Linked DNA regions of Homo sapiens: all the other regions are reported to be linked to region 2. The links are microRNA targets in miRTarBase. Many come from high-throughput screens and were not tested one by one. Region 2 holds a microRNA gene; each other region holds the end of a gene's coding sequence. Distances are from middle to middle.
Evidence for each region. The annotated mature microRNA hsa-miR-4525 reads GGGGGGAUGUGCAUGCUGGUU and lies in region 2 at 1,153-1,173, shown strand. An mRNA with a match to its seed (bases 2 to 7 or 8) in the 3' UTR can be bound and repressed. Matches are read on the target gene's strand: a 7mer-m8 pairs with bases 2 to 8, a 7mer-A1 pairs with bases 2 to 7 and ends in A, and an 8mer does both.

Region 1 (3,339 bases), not on the chromosome of region 2:
ATTGGGCCACTGCACTCCAGCCTGGGTGACAGAGCAAGACCCCATCTCGAAAATAAATAAATAATAAAAAAAATTGGCCAGGTGTGGTGGCGTGCACCTGTAATCCCAGCTACTTGGGAAGCTGAGGCAGGAGAATCGCTTGAACCCGGGAGGCAGAGGTCAGAGGTTGCAGTGAGCTGAGATCATGCCACTGCACTCCAGCCTGGGTGACAGAGCTGGCATGCAAAAAAAAAAAAAAAAAATTAGCTGGGTGTGGTGGCACATGCCTGTAATCCCAGCTACTTGGGAGGTTGAGGCAGGAGAATTGCCTGAACCTGGGGCTAACCACTGGAAAGAGAGCACAGCCTCAAGCCACACTCAGCCTCAAGTCATCCAGGTGACCCAGAGAACAAGGGCCTGGAAGAAGCGGGTGAGTGGGTGAGGTGGAGGTGTAGATTGGAGTCCTAGGCCTTTGGGAGGCCCTCCAACCTCCCTTCTGCACCAACTTCTCCTGGGTGGCTGTGGCAGGCAGCTTTCCCTCCTGGGCTGTAAGGGGATAGATGCAGGTGAGGTGACTGTAGTGGTCTATTTTCAAGGATGCCCTTATTCTTGGGGGCAAGATGGAACAGCAGGAAGAAAGGGTGTGGGTGCTGGGCTGACAGAGGCCCCGATGCTGGCTCCGCCCATCCTGGCTGCACTGGTGAGCGGCATCATAGGAGAAGCTCCCAGAGTCCAGAGTTGGGAGAGCCAGATGGGATCAGGGAACCTCCCAGCATCAACCCTGGCCCTTCCTCATGGCCCCTAAAGCCCTGCAGGGTATGGCTCTGCAGGCTACCCAGCCTCATCCATCTGGAATGCACCAGGCTAGACCTGGCCCCAGGGTCTTTGTACTGGGCGTGCTGTTGCCCAGACCTGGGGCTGTCGGCTTCCTGCATGGGCAGACCCTTGCCATCGCTGAAATATCAGCGCACACATCCCCTGGGAGAGGTCTTCCTGGGCCTCCAGCTGTGCCTTCTCACAGGCTGCATCCAGACATTCACATCCTCTCCCCTGGACCCCATCTGTCTCTTGTTTTGAGATGAAGTCTCCCTGTGTTGCCCAGGCTGCAGTGTAGTCCCATGATCTCGGTTCACTGCAACCTCTGCCTCCCGAGTAGCTGGGATTACAGGCATGTGCCACTACACCCAGCTAATTTTTGTATTTTAAGTAGAGCTGGGGTTTCACTATGTTGGGCAGGCTGGTCTGGAACTCCTGAGCTCAAGTGATCCACCCACCTCGGCCTCCCAAAGTGCTGGGATTACAGGTGGGAACCACTGTGCCTGGTGCACTTTTTTTTTAAACATAGATGGAATCTCACTGTGTTGACCAGGCTGGGCTCAAGCGACCCTCCCACCCTGGCTTCCAAAGAGCTGAAATTACAGGCCATGACACTACACCCCACCTCTTTATTAAAAAAAAAAAAAGGCCGGGCGCGGTGGCTCACGCCTGTAATCCCAGCACTTTGGGAGGCCAAGGCAGGTGGATCACGAGGTCAGGAGATCCAGACCATCCTGGCTAACACGGTGAAACCCCGTCTCTACCAAAAATACAAAAAATTAGCCAGGCGTGGTGGCAGGCGCCTGTAGTCTCAGCTACTCGGGAGGCTGAGGCAGGAGAATGGCATGAACCCGGGAGGCGGAGCTTGCAGTGAGCCAAGATCACGCCACTGCACTCCAGCCGGGGCCACAGAGCAAGACTCTGTCTCAAAAAAAAAAAAAAAAAAAAGAGCCGGGCACGGTGACTCACACCTGTAATCCCAGCACTTTGGGAGGCCTAGGCAGGCAGATCACAAGGTCAAGAGATCAAGACCATCCTGACCAACATGGTGAAACCCTGTCTCTACTAAAAATACAAAAATTAGCTGCGCATGGTGGCGTGCGCCTGTAGTCCCAGCTACTCGGGAGGCTGAGACAGAAGAATTGCTTGAACCCGGGAAGTGGAGGTTGCAGTGAGCAGAGATCGTGCCACTGTACTTCAGCCTGGTGACAGAGTGAGACTCCGTCTCAAAAATAAATAAATAAATAAATAAATAATAAAAAGAGAGACCTCACTCTGGTGAGGTCTTCCAGCCTAGGCTGGAGTGCAGTGGTGCAATCATAGCTCACTAAAGCCTCAAATTCCTGTGCTCAAGTCATCCTCCTACCATCTGTCTCTTTTGAATTCAGTACATCCACTAGGTAAAGCAATGATGCCACAGAACCCATGCAGCAGCCTCAAGGTAGGGCCCACTGGGGTCCTGGATTTCAGGTGAGTAAACAGTGAACGCTGGGGTAACGAGTGGAGCTGGGCAGTAACACCCCCAGAGTCCAGCTGAGTCAGACCTCTCAACCCACTTGCCCCTGCTACATCACCCCACTTCTCTATGCCTCAGTTTCTCCTCTGTAAAGTGAGTATGTTGTGCCCGGAGAGGAGACCCCCAGCTCCAGCTGGCTCAACCACATCCACCATGCTGTGTGACTCCAGATGCATCACAGGCTGTCTCTGGCCCAGCCCCAGACAGCGGGAGAAGAAAGCTCAGGAGTCCGTGGAAACTGCAGGGTGGGATGCTTTATTTCACTGTGGCGGGGAGGGAACCTGGACAGGGGGCGGCAGGCGGGGTGGGGGGCTGGCACTCAGGCGGGGACTAGGCAGGGGAAGGGCTGCCCCCAGGCCTGTTGAGGAGAAACTGAGGCCAGCCCTGGCGGAGACCTAGCCCAGCGGGGTAAGGAGGGTGGGGGAAAACTGGGTCTGAAGGAATGAGGGCCCCCTCCCTCTGGGCTTTCCTCCTAGAGGGCCTCAGTCCCTCCTGCTGGCTGGGCTGCACGACCCCCAATCCTTGCTCCCCTAACCCGGAGGAGGGGGCCAGACCAGGGAGGGCAGTGGACAGGGAGCCTGGGGGAGTTGGGGAGCGCAGGGCAGGGTCCATGGTGTGCAGAGGGGGTGGCAGCCACCTAGGTGGTCAGTTCCTGGCAGCGATGACCACAGAGAGTGCCACACCCCCCAAGGCAACAGCAGTCGCCCCAAACAGCCACTTCCATGGGATGGACTGTGGATAAAAAGGAGGGGAGAGAAGGGTGGAGGGAGGTCAAGACTGGCCTCTGGGGCCTCAGCTGCCAGCACAGCCCAAACAGACCTCCCAACAAATCATTGCCTGACTATGTATTTCCCACTTCCTGGCAAACTCCTACTCATGCAGCAAAACCCAAATCAAATGGCCCCTCCTCCAGGACACCGCCCCTCGTGCCCTGGAAGAGGCTCCACAGTCCACCCCCAGCCCTCCAGCTTGAGTTCCACCTTCGACTCCACTCATGATCACACAGGGCTGGGCTCTCTCCACGTCCC
Region 2 (3,339 bases):
GCCCAGGCTGGAGTGAAATGGTGTGATCTCGGCTCACCACAACCTCCACCTCCCAGGTTCAAGCAATTCTCCTGCCTCAGCCTCCTGAGTAGCTGGGATTACAGGCACCCGCCACCACGCCCGGCTAATTTCGTATTTTTAGCAGAGACAAGGTTTCTCCATGTTGGTCAGGCTGCTCTCGAACTCCTGACCTCAGGTGATCCACCCCGCTCGGCCTCCCAAAGTGCTGGGATTACAGGCGTGAGCCACCGCGCCCAGGCCCTAATTTTTAAATTTTTTGTAGAGATGAGGTCTCACCATGTTGCCCAGGCTGGTTTCGAATTCCTGGGCTCAAGCGATCCTCTCACCTTAACCTCCCAAAGAACTGGGATTACAGGCGTGAGCCACCGTGCCTGGCTATTTTCCTTTCTGTAAAAGGACTGTTTCCTTGATACTCACTTGGTCACCTGGGAAAACCACAGCAGTGTGGTTTTGGTCTGACAGCAATGGAGGCTACGCCGCGTGCCCCACTGTGGTGAGGTCAAGCTCCTGGTGCTAAGATGCTGATGGTAGCAGTGGCCCATCTAGAGTGGCTGCTGCCAAGATGCCGGCTGCAGCGGAGGCATGGCTGGGCCTCTCGATCCACGGATCAGGCAGCAGCTCCGCCTTCCCTGCGTGCCGCGGCCCGCTGCCCTGGGGCAGCTCTAGACGCGGGCGTCTCTGTGCTCTTGGAGGCCTGGGAAGGCCACCCCTGCCCCCTGCAGGCTTAGAAGTGCCTGCTCCAAATGCCTGGCCTCTCCTCACTCCCCACGCCCGCTCCAGTCGTGGAGCACAGTTGGGGCTGAGCCCAGGTGCTGCTGCAGACCATCCGGGTGGGTCCACACTTGGGGCAGCACGGACACACCAGCCCTTGCCACCTCAGCCCCCTCGGGACTGGGCGCTGTTGAACATGGGAGGGAAGCTGAGGGAGGGCTGAGGGTGGCTCAGTGCTGGCCTGCAGGCGCCCCTTGGCATGAACAAGCTGGGTGCCATGAACAGCAGTGGGAGGCAGACAGACTTCTGGGTGGAAGGGGGCAGGTCCCTGGTGAAGCCACACCTTGAAGCTTCAAGGGGGCCTGGGGCCCGGGCTGCCAGTCCTGCAGACTGGAAGGAGGACTCGGTGCTTTTGTCAGAGGGGGGATGTGCATGCTGGTTGGGGTGGGCTGCCTGTGGACCAATCAGCGTGCACTTCCCCACCCTGAAGACCACAAAAACCCCAGACTCAGAGCAACGCGGACGTCGGGATGACCAGCTGCGGAGAGCTACCCTGTCTGCTGAGAGCTGAACACTTGTCAGGACGACCTGCCTGCAGAGAGAAGCCACCCACTGTGGGTCTCCCCTGAGCTGTTCTAACACTCAGTAAAGCTCCTCCTCGTCTCGCTCACCCTCCACTTGTCTGGGTACCTCATTCTTCCTGGATGCAGGACAATAATTCAGCAGCCACAGAGGTTTCCAGCCGGAAGAGCAACATCCCAAAGGCCCCATCAGTGCCCCGTCAGCGCCCATGCCAAGAAGAGAGAGACAGACGGTGCACTCAGCGTGCCTGCTGGGCTCGGTGGCAAACGTTTGGCCAGCTCAGGAAAGCCTCGTACTGGGTGGGTCAGGGGACTGCTTGGCCGCTCTGTCTGAGCCTCATCACGGGGCAGGTGGCGTCTGCAAAGCGGGTGCTTCGGGCGTTCTCAGTGCTGCTGTATCTTTTGTCCTCTGAATCACTCTCCTCTGACGGGGGGAGTTTGCTCTGGTGTTGCTTGGTCTAATCTACCTGGTGGCGTGATGGGCAGTCTCTGTGGACAGAGTGTGGAGTTTAGCAGGAGACAGAGGAGGATGCGGGAAGCCTGGACTCCATGTCTCTGGGGCTCTGGTGGCACCACAGAAAGAGCCTCTGGAGTCCAGGAAGGGGGCAGGGCCCGGAGGAGGAAGCAGAGGGCAGGGGACAGGCTGGACACAGCAGCTGTGGGAGGGAGGGGTGCTCGGGATCTCATGGAAGGCGCTGCACAGGTGTGCTCAGATCAGGCAGGTGTGCCATGCACGTGCTCATGGCTGCATCAGTGGAAAGTGGAGGACAGAGGCCCAGAGCTGCTGCAACGCCCAGGCCTGCCTGAAGATGTGGGCGACCAGCTGTCCAAGCCAAGTGGGAGGCCACCGGTGGCACCGCCACTGCACACCTCGCTCTGCCCGACAGGAGACCAGGAACTCGGCACACTGCCTCCTGGGATGCAGGGGGGCTTGTGGCCAAGTCCAAGGGTTCTAGACCCTTCGAGGGGGCAGAAGCTGCTTGAGAACCGTGGCCTCCGCAGCCTCGCATTTTTAGAGGAGCCTGTTTCTGGGCACTCACTGGCTACATCGTGGGCTTCTCTGGAAGGAGAGCTGCAGAGGCCGTGTGCTCCACGACGGTCTCCAGGGTGAGGTCTGGTGCGAGCCTCGGCGCTGCTTCTCCCCTCGGCCTCTCAGCGGCGCGCTTCCCTTTAGAATTCTGATTCCCTATTCAGCCATACTTGTCAAAGCACTCAACATCCGATCACAGCCGAGAGTGAGGCCAGGGCTTGTCTCTTGTAGGTTTAGTGCTTTGAGAGATACTGTCAAGTAAATCCTATACATGAAATAAATCAAGCAAATCCCACAAAGGCTGGTCATGTCTTGTTACTAAGCAGTTTGGGTTCCTGTGATTGTACGTGTCATTGTACCTGGTTTTAGGAAGGCAGTGCTCCTACCCGGCATTCTCCAGCCCCTTAACTCAAACCCTCTCTTTCCATGTTCTCAATGACAGACCTGGTGCTCATCCGGAAGCGCTAGAAGTGAACACAGGAGATGTTTCCTAAAGAAGCAGAACACTGGTGTCTGGGGGGTGATGGGGGCGGGGAAACATATTTTTCCCTTTAAAAATATTTATTGGCCGGGAGCAGCAGCTCATGCCTGTAATCCCAGCACTTTGGGAGGCCGAGACAAGTGGATCACCTGAAGTCAGGAGTTCAAGACCAGCCTGACTGATATGATGAAACCCCATCTCTACTAAAAATACAAAAATTAGCTGGACGTGGCGGTGTATGCCTGTAATTCCAGCTACTCAGGAGGCTGAGGCAGGAGAATCACTTGAACTCAGGAGGCCGAGGTTGCAGTGAGCCAAGATTGCACCACTGCACTCCAGCCTGGGCAACAAGAGCGAAATTCCATCTCAAAAAAAAAAAATGTATTGTGGCCAGGCATGGTGGTTCATGCCTGTAATCCCAGCACTTTGGGAGGCTGAAGTGGGAGGATCACTTGAGTCCAGGAGGTTGACCAGCCTGGGCAACACAGCAATGCCCTGTCAATTAGCCAGGTGCG
Region 3 (3,000 bases), 36 Mb from region 2:
TGCCATGGCGTATCAGGCTCCTGTGCCGTGCGCACCTGCTGGAAGCAGCTCTCCCCGTTCCGTGAGACGGGCCAGGTGCTGAAACTGCGCTATGACTCGGCTGTCAAGGTGTCCAGTGCCACCAATGAGGCCTTGGGCCGCCTAGAGCTGTGGGCCCCTGCCAGGCAGGGCAGCCTCACCAAAGGCCTGGCCCCAAGGTCTGGGGACCTGGTGTACATGGAGGACTCACCCAGCTTCTGCCGGCCCAGCAAGTACTCACCTGGCACAGCAGGTAGGGTGTGCTCCCGGGAGGCCAGCTGCAGCAGCCTGTGCTGCGGGCGGGGCTATGACACCCAGAGCCGCCTGGTGGCCTTCTCCTGCCACTGCCAGGTGCAGTGGTGCTGCTACGTGGAGTGCCAGCAATGTGTGCAGGAGGAGCTTGTGTACACCTGCAAGCACTAGGCCTACTGCCCAGCAAGCCAGTCTGGCACTGCCAGGACCTCCTGTGGCACCCTTCAAGCTGCCCAGCCGGCCCTCTGGGCAGACTGTCATCACATGCATGCATAAACCGGCATGTGTGCCAATGCACACGAGTGTGCCACTCACCACCATTCCTTGGCCAGCCTTTTGCCTCCCTCGATACTCAACAAAGAGAAGCAAAGCCTCCTCCCTTAACCCAAGCATCCCCAACCTTGTTGAGGACTTGGAGAGGAGGGCAGAGTGAGAAAGACATGGAGGGAAATAAGGGAGACCAAGAGCACAGCAGGACTGAAATTTTGGACGGGAGAGAGGGGCTATTCCATCTTGCTTCCTGGGATGAATGGCTTGGAGCCAGCATGTTCTTGGGAGGTGAACTGCTGGGCTAGGAATGCCAAGGCAGGCAGTGCCAGCTGGAAGTGAAGGCGGGAGCCTGGCTGAGATGGGTCAATCGGGTCCTGTGGCCCTGCTCAGGTGCAGTGGGCTCCAGGTGTCACACACCTCCACCACTCCCCTGGTTTTGCTGTGCCAGAGATGGGGAGAAAGCACAGGTGGTAGAAGCCATCCGTTCAGAGAAAGGAGAGCTTTCTGTGCTTGAGTGGACCCGAGTGAGATCTGTGCCCTGGAGCCCTGTGTCCTTGATTTGGCTTTTCAAATATGCCTCCGCTGAGGCCTCATTCTTGTCTCGAGAGCTGGGTTATGCACACTCACCCAGCCGTGCTCAAAACTACCACCAGTGCAGGTAAGACAGGTGGGAGAACTAGCCACCAAGGCGGGACTCAGTGCACCTGAGGTTGAACAGGGAGACAACGGCCCCTCCCTGTGTTCCCTGCTGGCCAAAGGAATCTTCACTCCCAGCGCAGAGGAGGAGGGCAACAGCTTCCTGGTGCCTGGCAGTGACGTGGCGAGCTCAGTTTCTCAGCTGGCTCTTGAGTGAGCTTTGGTGACTTCCTGTGGCTGGGGCCTGCCTGGTCTGTGACACCCCCATACCAGCTGAGTTCACAATACTGAAGAACAGCTGGCTCACGAGCTATGACTTGAAGTTACATTTCTATTCTTGTGGCTGCTCATCTAGTTAAGGCTTTTGCCCTGGCTGGGGTTATAGGTGCTTGAGTCCTTGCTAAGCCTGGCTCCTGGGTAGCCTCCTTCAGTTCCTAATGGCCTCTCACTTGGCCCTCACTTTGGCTCTTACTTGAGGAGGAGACGTGACTTTGATAATTTCCTCAGATCCTGTGGACATTTTCAGCAGCACCTGCCAAGGCCCTCTGTGAAAGGAGGAGAGACTGGTACCTCCACACAGGCACACATGGATGCACAGCCCCTGGACCAGGCTGGGGGTTCCTGTTGCACATGCCTCTCTTGTTCAGGATGAAGACCTTGCAGGGGTCCCCTTGCTGGAGGCATTGTACTTCCCCAGAGTGGGGCCCGATGCCACCCAGGAGGAAGTGACTTCTTTCGGGAAGCCCTTGGCCACTTTGCTGGCCCTGCCACGCCCATCTGTCAGCTTCCTTTCTCCCTAAACCTAGAGTTGCTGACCCTTCACCAACACAGGAAATTTCAGAATCAGCTGAATGCTCAGAAACCTCGCCTGTGCCAGCTCCAGGACAAAGGCCCGCTGACTGTGCCCTGGCCAACTCCCTGAGACCTCCAAGGGCGAGGAGGAGCTGCCCAGTCTCCAGTGGATCAGGGCAGTCTGCTGGATGCTGGAAGGATTTTTGACTGCAGAGGCCCGGCTGAGAAGCCAAACTGACCTGAGCCCCTCTCGTTAAAATGACATTGCTGACCCAAGCACCTGGCCCACACCTTGGCAGCAGGAGAAAAATGGGGAGAGGGCTGGTTTTCTCCTTTCTTCCACTTCCCCACAGCATGGAGATTTTCTCTGCCTTCCCAATCCATCTTGCTCCTCCGAGACCCCAACTCTGCCTCCACCCAGGCTCAGTGCTGGGCGTAAGGCAGCAGGGACCTCACTGGCAGAGCAGGGGGCCTGGGAGCAACGTGGAGGCCAGAGCACCCTGATCCACCAACATGCCACCTGCATTCTGACTTCATGGCTGGCAGTGCCAGGGTCGTGGGAGGGCAAAGGGCAGGCTCTAAGGCATCTAGGCAGTGGCTGGCTGCTAACATGGACACCCCAAGTCAATGGCACAGTGCAGGTTCTGAGGGCTCCTTGGCTTGTGGGGTCTTCTCTGTCTGTCTCTCTCCCTCTCTTCTTCCTTGCTCTCATCCCTTTCTTTTCCAGTTACCCCTGAAGACCCACCTCGGCCCTCTTGGGGCCCCTGGGGACTAGAGTGACCACTGACCCCTCATTCTACAGCTTTAAGGGAAATGCTCACAGGGTATTTTTGTCTACCTCAAATATATAGTTTTTAGAGCAAAGGAGAATAATTTATATAGCTAAGATATATGAGAAAGTATTTATATTATTTATATAGTTGCTATATTTCACAGACAGCACAGGTGGGGTTTGTGTATTTTCCCGGAAACCCTCTGTCTGGGGAGATACAGCCTGACCTGACCGGGTCCCCCACTGAGCAGGAGGCCGGG

Region 1: miRTarBase lists FKBP8 as a target of hsa-miR-4525. Seed matches in the 3' UTR shown: 7mer-A1 at 2,891-2,897 and 7mer-A1 at 2,730-2,736.
Region 3: the mRNA of WNT9B is a reported target of hsa-miR-4525. Seed matches in the 3' UTR shown: 7mer-A1 at 2,977-2,983.

What each region holds. Positions count from the first base shown.
Region 1 is chr19:18,529,213-18,532,551 of GRCh38, forward strand. It overlaps FKBP8 (FKBP prolyl isomerase 8), which reads right to left. Exons shown (of 9, transcript NM_012181.5): 9 at 2,551-3,043. The coding sequence ends at 2,957. Among named protein-coding and RNA genes, the nearest start is that of ELL, 8.8 kb to the left of the region's middle. RefSeq lists an enhancer at 296-1,181.
Region 2 is chr17:82,666,115-82,669,453 of GRCh38, reverse strand. It overlaps MIR4525 (microRNA 4525), which reads left to right and starts at 1,147; the gene lies at 1,147-1,221. The region is part of intron 1 of RAB40B (RAB40B, member RAS oncogene family); the gene reads left to right. RefSeq lists an enhancer at 493-672.
Region 3 is chr17:46,876,278-46,879,277 of GRCh38, forward strand. WNT9B (Wnt family member 9B) reads left to right here. Exons shown (of 4, transcript NM_003396.3): 4 at 1-3,000. The coding sequence ends at 441. It also overlaps a transcript of LRRC37A2 not described here. Among named protein-coding and RNA genes, the nearest start is that of WNT9B, 26 kb to the left of the region's middle. RefSeq lists enhancers at 142-742, 2,052-2,551.